2 linked regions of the Homo sapiens genome follow. The protein of the gene in region 2 purifies or fractionates together with the protein of the main gene of each other region. This does not show direct contact. Each region holds a gene or a part of one and is shown on either strand. Other genes may lie near its edges.

What was found. Proteins that work in one complex are often made in the same cells at the same time.
Region 1: the proteins of WNK1 (region 2) and SGK1 purify together in Homo sapiens (affinity purification with western blotting, with the first as the bait; 2 studies listed by BioGRID). This does not show direct contact.

Annotation. Positions count from the first base shown.
Region 1 is NC_000006.12:134,258,314-134,266,619, forward strand, and holds part of SGK1 (serine/threonine-protein kinase Sgk1), read right to left. Parts: intron 3,836-8,306; coding exon 3,620-3,835; intron 1-3,619. UniProt on the Homo sapiens protein: Serine/threonine-protein kinase which is involved in the regulation of a wide variety of ion channels, membrane transporters, cellular enzymes, transcription factors, neuronal excitability, cell growth, proliferation, survival, migration and apoptosis.
Region 2 is NC_000012.12:901,582-909,887, reverse strand, and holds part of WNK1 (serine/threonine-protein kinase WNK1), read right to left. Parts: intron 2,042-8,306; coding exon 1,854-2,041; intron 1,414-1,853; coding exon 1,096-1,413; 3' UTR 1-1,095. UniProt on the Homo sapiens protein: Serine/threonine-protein kinase component of the WNK1-SPAK/OSR1 kinase cascade, which acts as a key regulator of blood pressure and regulatory volume increase by promoting ion influx.

The DNA of each region.
Region 1 (8,306 bases), on a different chromosome or scaffold from region 2:
TGGGCTCAAGCCATCCACCCCCCTTGGCTTCCCTGGGGTTACAGGCATGAGCCACTGTGCCCTGCTGATGCATATTTTAACGATTAAAATAATAATAATAAAAAAAACCCACCTGGCATGGTGGCTCACACCTGTAATGCCAGCACTTTGGGAGGCCGAGGCAGGCGAATCACCTGAGGTCAGGAGTTTGAGAATAGCCTTGCCAACATGGTGAAACTCTGTCTCTACTAAAAACACAAAAATTCGCCAGGCGTGGTGGCGGGTGCCTGTAATCCCAGCTACTTAGGAGGCTGAGGCAGGAGAATCACTTGAACCTGGGAGGCAGAGATTCTAGTAAGCCGAGATCGCGCCACTGCGCTTTCCAGCCTGGGTGACAGGGCGAGACTCCATCTCAAAAATAAAATAAAATAAATAAAAAGGCTTAGGCCTGTAATCCGAACACCCAAGCGGGGGCAGATCTCTTGAACCCAGAAGTTTGATACCAACCTGTCTCCACAAAAAATAAAATAAAATAAAATAAAATTAGCTGGGCATAGTGGTGCATGGGGCGTGTAGTCCCAGCTACTTGGGAGGCTGAGGTGGGACCACTGCTTGAGCCCTGGAGGTCGAGGCTGCAGTGAGCCATGATTGCACCACTACACTCTAGCCTGGGCAGTAGAGCAAAACCTTGTCTCAAAAAAAAAGTAATAAAATAAAGTATGTGTCATTTTGATTTGTGATAACCTTAGGAAAAAGCCAGCAAAGTCTGGGAACCAGGTAATCGATTGCAAATTGGAGAATGATTTACCTGCTATCTAAGATAAAGGAAAAGGGTAAATCACAATGTTGCTTTAAATTCCTTTCAGCTTTGTTTATTGTTTCCTTTTGTGTGGAATTTCACTGTTGCATTGATTTAAACCCAGCTCCTATCAAATGGGACATAGAGTAGGCCCTCAAGTAAACATTTAGCACTAGGCATGTGTGCTCTGTATAGGATATGTAGAACCCTCTCTCTGCTTCTAAGTCATAAATAGTTCTTTAGAGTCTAAGAAATTGGCAAACTCAGGCTGGGCGCAGTGGCTCAGGCCTGTAATACCAGCATTTTGGGAGGCTGAGGCAGGCAGATCACTTGAGGTCCGGAGTTCAAGACCAGCCTGGCCAACATGGTGAAACCCCATCTCTACTAAAAAAAAAAAAAAAAATTACCCGGGTGTGGTGTCAGATGCCTGTAATCCCGGCTACTCAGGAGGCTGAGGCAGGAGAATTGCTTGAACCTGGGAGGTGGAGGTTGCAGTGAGCTGAGATCTCGTCACTGCACTCCAACCTGGGAGAGCTGTGTCCATTCATTTACATATTATCTATGGCTGCTTTCCCTAGAAGGGCAGAGCTAAATAGAAGTTAGAGACTGTATTTTAGGCAAAGGCTAAAATATTTACTATCTGGCCGTTTAGATAAAAAGTTGACTCTATCCCTTGCATCAGGAGCGATAAATAGATGCTCTTGCATTTAGCGTCTTTATTGTTTTTCATGACAAACCTAGAGTTGAACCAACATCTGGCTAAAAAGCAAATGCACCATGACAAATGTTCATGGATCAGCAAAGTGCTAACCCAGTTATGGAAGTCTAATATAGTGTTACAGAGTCACAGGCTTAGCTAATATGTAAATCAGCAAACATGAGCAATAATGATTTATATTTGCATGGCATTCTATAGATTATGAAACATTTCATATCAATCTCATTTGATTTTTCCAATAACCGTAGAAAGTAGACAAGTAGGCTGGGCATTGTGCCTCATACCTATAATCCCAGCATTTTGGGAGGATCACTTGAAGCCAGGAGTTCAAGACCAGCCTGGTCAGTATGACAACACCCTGTTTCTACAAAAAAAATTTTTTTTTTTTAATTAGCCAGGTTTGTTGGCGTATGCCTGTGGTCTTATTTACTTGGGAGGGTTGAGGTGGGAGGATCACTTGAACCTAGGAGTTTGAGGTAACAGTGAGTTATGATTGCACTACTGCACTCAAGTCAGGGTTACAGAGCAAGACTCTGTCCCCCTGTCTCCCTGTCCCCGACCCCCACCCCCCCCAAAAAAAGGGCCGGCGTAGTGGCTCATGCCTGTAATCCCAGCAATTTGGAAAGCCGACGCAGGTGGATTACCTGAGGTTGGGAGTTTGACACCAGCCTGACCAACATAGAGAAACCCTGTTTCTATTAAAAATACAAAAATTAGCCAGGCGTGGTGTTGGGTGCCTGTAATCCCAGCTACTCGGGAGACTGAGGCAGAAGAATTACTTGAACTCAGGAAGCGGAGGTTGCAGTGAGCCGAGATCGTGCCATTGCACTCCAGTCTGGGCAACAAGAGTGAAACTCAAAAAAAAAAAAAAAAGAAAGAAAGAAAGTAGACAAATTATGAAACAGATTCAGCGACATTGCGTGATAACTCAGAGTGAAAAGGAACTCAGATTTAATGTCTTCAGTCTTTTAGCAGCTAAATGATTATTTTATCTCTGGAAAATGGTTACCTTGCTAAAAATAAAAAAGGTGAGCGGTTATTAACGTTTATCATTCTATGATGCACTGACTTGGAAGATCACTTACAATTAACTGTACTTTGTAATAACATGTTCTGTCTTCTAAATATTGTATTTTTATGTCAGTATGATGGTAAAAATAATATAAGCATTTTATATAATGGTTTTAAAAATCAAAATAAATATGGGCCTAATTAAGTTATAAGTTAAAAATATAATCTTAAATTTTTGAAATCTTAGAAACTGCAAGATGAATCAGTTATCTGGTTTTCTTGGATTAACAAAATTTTTAAAAAACAACTCTTGGAGTAGCAGGGAAAATAAGTCTTAGTAAAAATGTGAGTATATATGAGCTTGAGAAAAATAATGAAAAGTATACATAGTGCTCTGTAAATGGATCAAATCGTGTTGAACTAAATATTTCAATGGAAGCTACGAACATGTAGATGACTATTACAATCGTTGTATCATCTAAGACTTGATCTCCTGTGTGATCAAACCACTTCTGAGGAATTGCCAGTTTACCAACACATTGCTGTATCAGTCTTGGACCCACGTAAAACATTAATACAACATACTGCATGATTCAGCTAGATGACATTCTGGAAAAGGCAAATCTATGGAGACAGTAAAAAGATCAGTGGTTGCTAGGGGTCAGGGTAAGGAGGGGATGAATAGTGGAGGGCAGAGGATTTTTAGGGCAGTGAAACTTAACTGTATGATACTGTAATGGTGGATGCATGTTATTATACATTAGTCCAAACCCATAGAATGTATAACACCAAGAGTGAACTCTAACATAAAACTCTGCTAGGGAATGTTGATGGCAAAGTAGGTTATACGTGCATGGGGACAAGCGTATATGGGTAATCTCTGTACCTTCTGCTCAATGTTGCTGTGAACTTAAAGCTGCTCTAAAATATAAAGCCTACTTTAAAAAAATAACATAATGAGCTAACAAAGACCACAATTCTAGGTCTTCCTCAGAAGCTTTATAAATATGCATTAAAAAATTATTTTTTGGGTATACTCTGGCAGAAATACAAGAAAAACAAAGGCCCAGAATTTTTCCAGGAGAATAGATCCAGAGCGAACATGAACTTACTTCACACCCAGATTGAGTTTCCCATGAACATGACTCGTTCTCCTGAGGGAGAACCCCTCTTTGGAAAGCATGTTCACCCAGGCATGTTTGACACAAGGAAGACTCGAAGTCTGGCTCCCCTGGAGGGATGTGCACCATGGAGGAGCCGGTGTACTTCAGGCTGGGACTCTGATGCTTGTCCACACTGACCATTGGGCTCTTGATCCACCTTCGTACCTGCAATGTGCAAAAGGAAAGAAAAAACAAATGTGTTTGACTCCCTTTGATGTTTATTGGGGATTTGGTGGGAAATCTGGTGGGATGGGAGCTCATGAAAGGAGAACTCGGTCTCACAACCTGTCTATCTTTCAAACTCAACACAATTCGAATTGGTCAATGCTGTTCAGTCTCTTTCCTAGAGTATGCATTACATGGCTGGTCATTTCATCTTGCTGAGTCTGTCTCCGCATTTTTTTTTCACATTATTTTTTTCTTTTCTTTTTCCTCCTGCTTCCAGTGGGGTTAGAATTTTTTTCTTTTTAGAGATAGGGGGGTTTCACTCTGTTGCCCAGGCTGGTCTTGGTGTTAAAAGATCCTCCTGGACCAGCCTGCCAACATGATGAAACCCCATCTCTACTAAAAATACCAAAATTAGCCAGGCCTGGTGGTACACGCCTATAATCTCAGCTGCTTGGGAGAATCGCTTGAACCTGGGAAGCGGAGGTTGCAGTGAGCTGAGATAGCCCCGCTGCACTCCAGCCTGGGTGACAGAGCAAGACTGTCTCCAACCACAACAACAACACAACAACAACAAACCCTCAAAACCCAAAAACAAACAAAAACAATTACCCTGGCCAGGCGAGATGGTTTATATCTAAATAGCACTTTGGGAGGCCAAGGCAGGAGGACTGCTTTAGCCCAGGAGTTTGAGACCAGCCTGGGCAAAATAGCGAAACTTTGTCTCTACGAAAAAAATAACTTTTTTTTTTTTTTAAAGAAAAAGATCCTTTTGCCTCTTAAAGTGTTGGGATCACAGGTATAAGTCACTGTGCCCAGCCTGTCTCCTCATTTGTAAGATTCAGGTAATAATATTTCCTCCCAAGCTGTGAAAATGCTACCATGTTTTACAATGTTCAAGTACTTTGCCTGGCACATGTTTGGTGCCCAATAGATAGTGACTATTTTACTTTGACCCTTATTATTATGATTATGATGACAGAAATTTAGTTCACACATTTCTAAGGTGAATTACTAGTTATTCTTACAAGGGAAAATACTAATCTCATAGTTTACAATCTAATCCATTGCTAAGCAAATACATATTCACTATTATTATTGTTATTGAGACAGGATCTTCCTCTGTCACCCAGGATGGAATGCAGTGGCCTAATCATGGCTCACTGCAGTCTTGAACTGCTGGGCTCAAGCAATCCTCTCACCTCAGCCTCTGGAGTAGCTGAGACCACAGGCTCGCACCATCACACTACTAATTTTTTTTTTTTTTTGTAGAGATGAGGTCTCACTAAGTTGCGCAGGCTGGTATCAAACTCCTGGGCTCAAGTGATCCTCCCGCCTCCCAAAGTGTTGGGATTACAGGCATGAGCCACTGAATCCGGCCCATATATACTACTGCACAACTTTGATTATAAAAGAAATTGCTTCTGGCTAAGAAATTAGCTCAAGTTTGTTTTTAAAGTTCTAAAACTCACCACTTGTCTTGCTTGCTTGTAAAATCCCTATAAGATACAGAAAGAAGTATAAAGCTATTCTAATATTAACAGGCATGGTATTTATACAGCATTTCAAAAATCAAGGCACTTTTTAAAGTGTTTGATGTGTATAGTTTTTAATCCTCAGAACAGGCAGGGTGAGGTGGCTCACACCTGTAATCCCAGCACTTTAAACTTTGGGAGGCTAAGGCAGGCAGGTCACTTGAGGCCAGGATTTTGGGACCAGCCTAGCCAACATAGCAAAACCCCATCTCTACAAAAGAAAATAAATAAGTAAATGAAGAATAAAAAATTAATTAATTAGTCCTCAGAAAAGTTTTATAAGAAAGGTACTATTTTCAATCCCATTATACAGATGGAAAAACAAACGCATAGAGATGTGAAGCAAATTTCCCCAGGGCACAGTGTTGTTATGGAGTAAAGGCGGGATCCAGGCACCTTGAATCCAGAGTTTATAAACATGCAATTTTCTTTTCTTTCTTTTTTTTTTTTTTTGAGACAGAGTCTCGCTCTGTTGCCCCTGGCTGGAGTACAGTGGCGCGATCTCAGCTCACTGCAAGCTCTGCCTCCTGGGTTCACGCCATTCTCCTGCCTCAGCCTCCCGAGTAGCTGGGACTACAGGCACCTGCCACCATGCCTGGCTAATTTTTTGTATTTTTAGTAGAGACCGGGTTTCATCGTGTTAGCCAGGATGGTCTCGATCTCCTGACCTCATGATCCGCCCACCTTGGCCTCCCATAGTGCTGGTATTACAGGCTTGAGCCACTGCGCCTGGCCATGAGCATGCAATTTTCTAAGAAGCACTGAAGTGTTGTTAAGACTTATGGTCACTGGTGCTTGAAATTTATTTTGATTTACTATTTCACTTTCATGCTCTTCAAAACTCCTGAGGATTCTTTTATATTCAACCAATTAGTGAAATTAGCCTATAGCAAAAGGACAAAGAAGTAAAATCACAGTACTGAATTTTAGTTAGTGATGCTACAATTATTATTATTATTATTTTTGTTGTTGTTGTTGTTAAAGGGTCTTGTTTTGTTCCCCAGATTGGAGTGCATTGGCACGATGACAGCTCACTGCAGCCTTAACCTCCTAGGCTCAAGCGATCCTCCCACCTCAGCCCTCCCAAGTAGCTGGGACTACAGGCGTGCACCACCATGACTGGCTAATTATTTTTAAATTGTTTTGTAGAGACAGGGTCTTGCTATATTGCCCAGACTGGTCTTAAACTCCTGGCCTTAGGCGATCCTCCCACTTTGGCTTCCCAAAGTGTTGGGATTACAAGTGTGAGCCACCATGCCCAGCCTGCAATTAACTTTTTAAAAAACACTGAGGATAAACTAAAATTGCAATAGCAATAATGTTTAAGCAATTTATTATATTACTTGATAGAATATTTTGCTATCACTAAAATTAAGTATTATGAAGACTGTGAAAATATGAAAAATATTTAGAACATAATTATATGAGAAAAGCCAAATACAAAACTGTTTAATTGCTATAATCACAAATGTAAAAACATATGTACTAACTATAGGCCGGGTGCAGTGGCTCACGCCTGTAATCCCAGCACTTTGGGAGGTCGAGGCAGGCAGATCACCTGAGCCCAGGAGTTCAAGACCAGCCTGGTCAACATGACAAAACCCCATCTCTACAAAAAACACAAAAATTAGCTGGGTGTAGTGTTGGGCACCTGTAATCCCAGCTACTCAGGAGGCTGAGGCAGGAGAATCGCTTGACCCCTGGAGGTGGAGGTTGTGGTGAACCAAGATCATGCCATTGCACTCCAGCCTGGGCAACAAGAGTGAAAACTCTGTCTCAAAAAACAAACAAACAAACAAACAAAAAAAATATATATATACACATATATATTTTATATATACATATATATTTTATATACACATATATATTTTATATATATACATATATATTTATACATATACATATATACATATACATATATATTTTATATATATACATATATATATATACATATATATATACACAGAAACACTATAGACATAAAGTAGGAGAGTTAAGAGGCAAAATAGAAACTGCTGTGTTTATTGTTAGTATCATGGGTGTTTTATCTGTTTTTACAACTCTTCGTACTTTAACTTTTAAAAGAATAATATTTTATCAGAATCATAAATGTATATATATATATACATTTCTTTAAAAAATAGAGTCTCACCATGTTGGTCAAGCCAAGCTGGTTAGAACTCCTGGGCTCAAGTGTTCCCCTCCCAGCTCAGCCTCCCAAAATGCTGGGATTACAGGCGTGAGCTACCACATCCAGCCACAAGTGTCTTTTAATTGCTTTATTTATTTATTTCTTTATTCATTTATTTATATTTATTAAGATGGAGTCTCTGATTGTCACCCAGGCTGGAGTGCAGTGGCGCGATCTCAGCTCACTGCAGCCTCCTCCTCCCTGGTTCAAGTGATTCTCCTCCCTCAGCCTCCTGAGTGGCTGGAATTACAGGCACCGTGCCCCCACGCCCAGCTAATTTTTGTATTTTTAGTAGAGACGGGGTTTTGCTATGTTGGCCAGGCCGGTCTTGAACTCCTGATCTCGGGTGATCCACCCACCTCAGCCTCCCAAAGGGCTGGTAATACAGGCGTGAGCAACTGCACCTGGCCTATATGTACTCTTTTCAATAGCCATTTAAAATATCTTTGTGAGGCCGGTTGTGGTGGCTCACACCTGTAATCCCAGCACTTTGGGTTTGGGAGGCTGAGGCGTGTGGATCACCTGATCTCAGGAGTTCAAGACCAGCCTGACCAACATGGTGAAACCCTGACTCTCCTAAAAATACAAAAATTAGCTGGGCGTGGTGGTGCACACCCGTAACCCCAGCTGCTCCAGAGGCTGAAGCAGAAGAACGGCTTGAACCTCGGAGGCAGAGGTTGCAGTGAGCCTGAGATCATGGCACTGCATTCCAGCCTGGGTGAAAGAAGGAGACTCTGTCTCAAAA
Region 2 (8,306 bases):
CTACTCATCTTACACCTGCTCTAGACAAAGTTGTTGAATGACTTAAAAAAATACTTTTTCAATTTCCCTTTGGCATAACCACTGCTGGACTGCTGGGGTCACATGGACCTACGATTTCCTTCCACATGCCCTTTATTGATCTGGGGTCTGGTAAGTTGATGCTAATGGCAGAAGCAATAGAAGTCCAAGGCACTAAAATGTCCAGCAAGCAACACTGGGAAACAGAAGTATTCAAGTACAGTAATTTATACAATTTTACATTCACATTTATTTATCTAATACAATGGAAATACAAAGGAAAAAGTTAAAGTGTCTCAATAAGTAAAGGACAGAGCTAGCTTTTTTTGGAACTTTTTAAACGTTTCATATTTTACTCTTAAAACTACTGTTGTCCAACAACATTTTATATATCACAGTGTTTCCACATCAAAACTGATGGCAAAGTTACATGTCCGCAGGGAACTTAATTTTTTTTTTTTCCTAATTGCTAATGCTGCAGTCAAAGCTGCTAATATCTTTTGCTTAAAGCACTAATGACCTATCATAAGAAAGAGTTGCACCCCAGTACCCTGGTATTTTTCACTGGGTTCTAAAGAGCAAAGAAAAAATAAAAAAGAGAGGGGTAAAAAAAAGGGAGGAGGGCAGGGTAGGAGAGAGCCCAGTAGGTGGTTTTTGTCCTGTGGTTCGGATTCTTGAGGGAGTGAGGGATTCAGGGCATGTACCAAAAGCAAGAGCTCCACCCACTCGAAATTACAGATGGGTTTGATTTTACATTGAGTTCTCCAGCTTCCTTATGAACAAGACTTTCCTAGCCCTCATCCTCATTACTGAGTATAGATAAACAGGAAAGCATGGTCTGAAGCTGCCCCTTGACAAAAAAGCTGTTCTTTCCTTCCTCTCCCATTCCAATAACTGGAGCGGGGGAGACTCTCCATTCTGAGGGCTCAATGCAGTATTAAAAACATTCCCCTCTGGCAAGAAATAACCAGTTAAATGCAGCACTAGTAGTTAGTATATAGGCTACTTCCCACCCCCACCCACCCCCTCAGCATTCCATCTCCTGCCCCCAGATCTATTCAGTTAATGTCTCTAGGTCTAAGTGGTCCGCAGGTTGGAGCCTGGGGGGTTGCTGATGGATTTCTGCAAATTGCTGATGTTGAAATTCTGCAAGGAGGCAGTTCCCACAGGTTGGAACTGGCCAAGTGGCTGTGGTGCTGGGCCACCCGTCCCACTCCATTGAGCGCCAAATGGGGTAGCTGGAAAGCCATACTGCTGTGGGGGGCACATAGACTTGGTGAAGTGACCTAGAGAGGTAGCTGATGCTGCAGAGATGGGGGCAGAGCCACCCAGGTTCGAGGTCATGGAGATGCACAGTTGCCCAGGTGCAGAGAACTTCCTTGCCATTCCAGGGCCCTGAAAACAAAACCACCACGTGTCAAGTCTGGTGTGGGCCATGGTATAAAATGTGTGGCGCTAACATATACTTCTAGTATAATCCTGTAAGATACAGCAGAACAGTCTTCTGTAGTATTTATTGGCTCTTTATATTTACCAAGTAAGGGTGAAAATAATCCTCATGAGAGGGAGGGATGTCATGTGCGTGTGTGTCTGTGTGTGTGTAGTTGAGGATGACGAAGGAAAAACGAAGAAGAAAAAGTTGAGCTGACCAACAAGAGGTTAGGAATTCAGGGAAGGAAAAATAAAAGGGTACCTGGGGGATTTTTGCCTTGTTTTTCTAAAGTATTAAAATTGAAGAAGGTCGTGGCGTAAGACGTTAAGCAGCAGCTTAGTTGTTTCTATCACCTTGACTCAGATGTGTGTTACGGATTCTCTGCGGCAAAAGAGAGACTTACCTCGTAATTCATGTGCCCTTTGCTTCCTCTCCTGCCTGAGAGATTCATGGCATCTCGGGCCCAATTGTCTACCAACTTGTGCAAGTCATCTGTGAATGTGCCCTTCCTGCTGGACGTCATGGCAGGAGGCTGAGCTTGGGCGGCTTGGCTGTTCACTGTTGCCCCAACAGTGTTTGTGCTGCTGGTTCCTATTATAAGCAACAGAATACGAGCATTAAAAGAAGCCTAGGTTACAATTTCAGGAAGAGGGAAAACTTCACGGGATGATGAATGGCAAGCCACAGAATGAGAAGAGGATGAACTGGGAAGCCATGCAAGAGGGAAGATTCCAAGGTTTTGTTTAGCCATTTGTTTTGGTATAATAGGGTGATGAAAACAGTTTCTCTTCAGTAGCTGCTGCTAAGGCTGAACAACTCAGGATGACGGTAGGTACACAGGCAGGGGCCTCTTTCAGTCCATTCACAAAGCACCTAAGAGTATTGGAACTGCTCGCCAGTACGCTATTCCCAGCATCACGTTGCTGATGGAGGTGTGATACAATCAGCAAGGCTAGTTGCTCTGGAATTTTGCAGAATGCAGGGAAAAAGAGGTTTTCTTGTGCATTGGGCACGGTTAAAGTAGGAGTAGGAAAAGATGCTTGGCTAAGGATAAGGAGAAGGTGGGTTTCCAAACCATTGGACACTGCCACATTCTTTAGCCTTTTTTTTTTTTTTTGAGATGGAGTCTCACTCTATTACTCAGGCTGGAGTGCAGTGGTACGATCCTACCTAACTGCAACCCCTGCCTCCTGGGTTCAAGCGATTCTCCTGTCTCAGCCTCCAGAGTAGCTGGGATTGTAGGTGTGCACCACCATGCCCAGTTAATTTTTGTATTTTAGTAGAGACAGGGTTTTGCCGTGTTGGCCAGGCTGGTCTCAAGAACTCCTGACCTCAGGTGATCCGCCCGCCTTGGCCTCCCAAAGTGCTGGGATTACAGACGTGAGCCACCACGCCCGGCTTTTTTTTTTTTTTAAAGGAAGGGTCTCTTCTTTTTCTGTCACCCAGGCTGGATACAGCGGCACAATCACGTCTCACTGCAGCCTCCAACTCCTCCTGCCTCAGCCTCCCAAGTAGCTTGGGACTAGACGTATGCACTTCCACACCCAGTTAATTTTTTACTTTTTTATATAGACAGAATCTCCATATGTTGCTTAGTCATGAACTGCTGGGCTCAGGCAATCCTGCCATGTCAGCCTCCCAAAGTGCTGGGATTACAGGTGTGAGCCACCATGCTCAGCCTAGCCATTCTTTAAATAGAGAGAGGTAATAAGAGAAGTAGCATGCTGTGTTCAGAAAAGTTTTTCACCTGGACCCATAAACATGAATTTGCAAACATAAACTTGGGAGGGGTTAACCTCTCCCAATTTCCCATGAGTAAAGAACAAGATTATTCATGAGGAAAGGACTGTATGGTGTGCCTGAATCTTTCAACTTCAGGAAGACATGGTTTTCCTGAAGATGACCTCAGTTTCAATTGGCTCAAGGATTCCCACCGCTTCTCCCCACTCTTCCCAGAACAGCAAGCACTCCCATGTAGAAGCGACAAGAAAATGCAGCTGAGGCAGGGTGCAAAGGGGAGGAGGAAGCTTTGCGGTTATGATGAAGGAACTCTATTTCTGCGGTTTGATGAGAGAGGAGGGAGTCTATGCCTGCCTGATTTCGGCTCTGCTGGAGGGCACACTGAAGATTATTCCAAGAGGCACGTTTTGGGGAAGAGGGAAAGAAGAGTCATGGTCTTGTCTGTTTTCCTTACCCCCCACTGTCTTACCAGATCTCACGTGTTACAGAATAAATAAAAGCTCCTAAAGTAAGTTGTGAACCACTAGTCCTTAAGGTACCCAAGTAATGCGGGGGTAAGTAAGTGCATGCGTTATCCTGCTTTCAAGGTCAAAGCAGCACCAGATCACAGCAGCACACCTAACGCAATCCTGCCACTTCAAAGCCTGTTACTGACCATCGCTGGTCTCAAGTCAAGCTTATATCCTACCACCTGGGGAATGGCACACACAAGCAGGTCTGTGCTGCAGTAACAGCTAATTCTGAGGTGAAGCTGCAGTGAGGAAGGTCACATGCTTCTTACCGCTATGGCAAGACACGGAACTACTGCAGTGTGAGTGTCAGCTCATTTCTTGGTGTCTGCTGGAGCCACAAGGGGATTGCTATTGCACATACAGTGTGAAGGGAAGAGTAAGCTCCCTACAGTACAGGAAACGCGAGGGGAGAAGCATGAGAGCACAGAAAACAGCCTTCCATGAACAGCCAATGTGAGAGAGTGGTGAAGTGGGAAGCACAGGCAATGAGGATGGGCAGTCATGACAGTGAGTGACTCAATCTAGAAAGCAAGCATATCACATGCATGGGGATTGTCATCCTGTTTGAACAATTATTGCTTGGTGAGCTTGATGTGAGAGACAATCAAAACAAAAAACAGAAATAATCACAGGGGAGCAGAGCTGTCAAAAGCTAAATACAAGAAGCTCAGGAGGCGTGACCATTGCTTATCCACAGAGCTCATGCTGGGAGACACACCTCTCTAGTCTGTCGCCCCTGATGCTGCGAGGCCCCTTTAGAACGAAATTTCACTTTTCATTTTACCCTACATTACCTAATACAGGATTCTCTATGAGGAAAGAGAAACCATGAGGAAGAGTCAACCATACAGCTAAACCTTCACGTTCTGGCTTCTGTATACAGGCCTCCCATTAAAGAATGAAACAAACCTATCATTTTCTGACCAGAAATTAACTCCTAAGAAAAGGAGACTTGACTATAAAAGATGTAGAAAGGCCTTTGAGAGAATATGCTAACTTCTTAACCTTTTTTAGTTCTTCTGAAAAGCCCTAATAAGTAGTATAGACTTACCCCCAAGATTCATTTTTAAATTTCCTCCTGCCATTATAATACATTTCCCCTATTCCCACATCACCAGATCCTACTAACAATAACCTATTATGAACCATAACTTACAGCCCAACATCCCAAGTACAGAATTTCCCTGTTGACCCTACCTACAACACTGTAAGTGGCCTTCTCATTAAAGTATGAGAAGCCACAGTCTAAGAAGACAAACTCTAGAAAGTGGTGTTTTTCTCCTCGTCAATCTAGCACACATCTCCCACTTCAGTGTGAACGTGGGAGGGCATGGACTTTTGTATGCTTTCGTCACTGCTGAGTTTCCAGTTGGGGTAATAACACTGCCCGGCACATATTTGCTGACCAAAGGATCGCTCTCCCATAGGAACTAGGCATCCCTGACCTCCCTATATATACCCATGGCCATTACCAATCCATGTCTGTCACAAGCTAGGCTCACATGGGGTTATCACTGAGGGCACCGACTAGGAGATGATTTCTCAATTAAGCATGTTAAATATTTATTAGAATAGGATACAGAGATAGATGGAAGTTAGGAATCAGGGAGCTATGAGACTGCAGAGTTGAAAGAACTCATGGTTAACAGGCTTTGCAATCAAGGACCAAAAATAACAGAAAAGATAATTACTACAGAGCTGGTTGCAAGGACAGACTTTTTTCACCATCTTCCCTGAAGCACAAAGAGAGAAGCAATGTGTTAAAGATAAAGAAACATCAGTGTAAAATATTTAGAATCTCCAAACAGCACACAAACGCCCAGCAAGAGAAAGCAGGAGGTGAGACAGATAGGTAGGACCTGGTAGCCCTTGAACAGATATAGTTCTACAGAATGTTTCGAACTGGCTGTTAGCCTTAACATGATTATCTGATGGGCTGTGTTACGTGGCTGACAGATGTGGAGTTTCTACACCCAATCTTTGTATCTAAAAGAGTAATGCCCTGCACTGAGGTTCTGGAATTGGCGAGGAACTCCAGTCTCTCAGGTCTCACTGCTTGAATTTCAAATACCCAAGCAGCGTTTCCACTGATCCTGTCCCACTTCCTGTTTCTCCAGCTGGGCTGTTAAAAAGCACTCAGTTAAATGCATTAGCAACCCCACCACAGTAGACTGATAGTATCACTGTTACAGCTTTAAGTTCATTTAAATTGGCTATTATATTTCCACATCCCACATATATATACTAACCCCTTCCCTTCCAGAATAGTTTTTAAAAGTACGTGGAAAACAAGCAACCTCTGAACATAAATATAGCAGTAAGCCAAGCCGTGCTTCCAAACCATTATCTATTTTGAGAGCATAGAATAATACATCTCAAGCTAGTAAGGTGCCCTACTCTTTCAAGTACCTGTTTCCTTTCCATATTTCAAGTATGTCTCTTGGGATTTGTTTACCAGGCTTACATGATGTATCCTGATGTGACTTCTAAGGATGTAGGGCCTTTCATTTTGCACCCAAAGGGAAGTGACAAGATTCAATATTTCTGACCACTTTCATTTGAACAACAGGGGTAATACCACCTACCTTTAAAAGTGGGATGAGAATTTATGGAATTTAATTAAAGTGGTATTTGTCACATTATATTTCAGAAACAGAAGCTTTGGTTCTCTTTCTTCCCTCTCAGACACTTCAGGCTGTAGACCATAGGCCTGACATGTCACATTCTACTTCAAAAACACCCCCCTTGCAACTTTCTAGGTGGACATGCAAATTAAATGCTTATTCAACTGTCAAAGTGCTAATATGCACAGTCCAGGAAAGTCTGACCAGAAAAATTATTGATCTGAGTCCTCAAAAAAAAAATCACACAAGCCTGGAAAACGATCGAATTGGGTAATGCCTTCCACCCGCTTCTTTGTTAAACAGCCTGGGACTAGTGCATGTGGGGAAAGTCAGTAAAGACTGCCTCTCAAGTACAGCTAACTCATTACTAATACAGGTACAAATAATAGGGGTGCTGGAAGGAGCCAATCCATTTCTAATGCAGGTAAAAATAACAGGGGTATGTGTGAGGGAAATGGCAGTTAAACGTGTCATATGCTTCGCTTTAAATCTAGTCACTACAGAGAACAAAGGGAGGTTGTAAATTCTTCCCACCGTGAAGAGGCCCAAGGGCCTCTGACCCATACTCAGAAACAGTGATGGCCTGAGCACATGCATGTAAAAAGCACTTCAATAATCACATCAGAAGTTTGAGGCCTTAACAGAGAAGATCTTTATTCAAATTATAACAAAGGTTTTTCTACTTGAACTATGTTTTTGTTTGTTTTAAACTGTTCTTCCACGAACAGTTATTGACTACCTGTTCTGTGCCAGGTAGGCACTGACTCATCAGAGAGAAACCATGAGTGCTTTTCAAGCGCTACCTGTTTCTCTGTACATGATCTTAGCTTGATTTGTACGATGGCCCTAGGACACTGGCATCATCTCCATTTCACATATGGGGAAGATGGGGTGACTTGCTATTGTGCCTTGTTTTTAAGTAGAAAGCTGCAAAATCCCAGAAATCATGTTAGAAGGAGAATTTTCACTTGCAGATGCTGGGCTTTGATCTTTATTAGACTAAGTGCTTTATCAGAATAACCAAACTAAAAACCGCTTTTGATTTTATGGGGTTAGAGGACAGTAGTGGTGGAATGATCCAATGAAGAGATCCTAGCATCTTTTCAACTGGTAGCTGCTTAGGCTTAATAGAGAAGAAAAATAAGATTTCAATCTACTCTGACAAAGAATGGAAAAAAATGGTACATAATTTTTACCTGCTGCCAGGATCTAAGAGCATCATTGGTCAAAATGCTTTCTTCATTTCGTTTCTTTTTTTTGAGATAGAGTCTCACTCTGTCGCTCAGGCTGGGGTGCAGTGGTGCAATCATGGCTCACTGCAGTCTCAACCTCCTGGTCTTAAGGTGGTAATCCTCCCGCCTCAGCCTCCTGGGCAGCTGGGACTATAGGTGCACACCACCATGCCAGGCTAACTTTTTTTTTTTTTTTAGAGATGGGGTATCACCATGTTGCCCAGGGTTGGTCTCGAGCTCCTGGCCTCAAGCAATCTTCCCGCCTCGGCCTCCCAAAGTGCTGGGATTACAGGTGTACGCCACCGTGTCTGGCTGATTTCTCTCATTTCTAATGCTAGGGCAGACAGACAGCACTGACTACGACTGTGGAGTTCAGTCTTCATTATTCTAAATGACCCAGCAATCTATTGCCTAGATACCATATCCACTCTCTGTCACAGATCCATGAAGAAGCACTTCTACCAGAAAGTTACATTGAAATTTGTAGATAACTTGTTATTTTGACATTTTTTATCATAATTAATGTGGGGGCCCAAACTTCTGAGGGTAACAGTAATTCAGCCAAGCCACTGAGTAGATGATATACAAAAAGAGACAAATGAAAATGGACTGCGTGAAACATCAGATCCAAGCAGCAGAAACACAAGGACAAGGAAGGAGTAAAGGTGTTACACACAAAGAGCCAAGCAGGGCGTACTCAGAAATCGGGTCCTCCTGCCACCAGGTTTGAATGTCACCTGTTCAGATG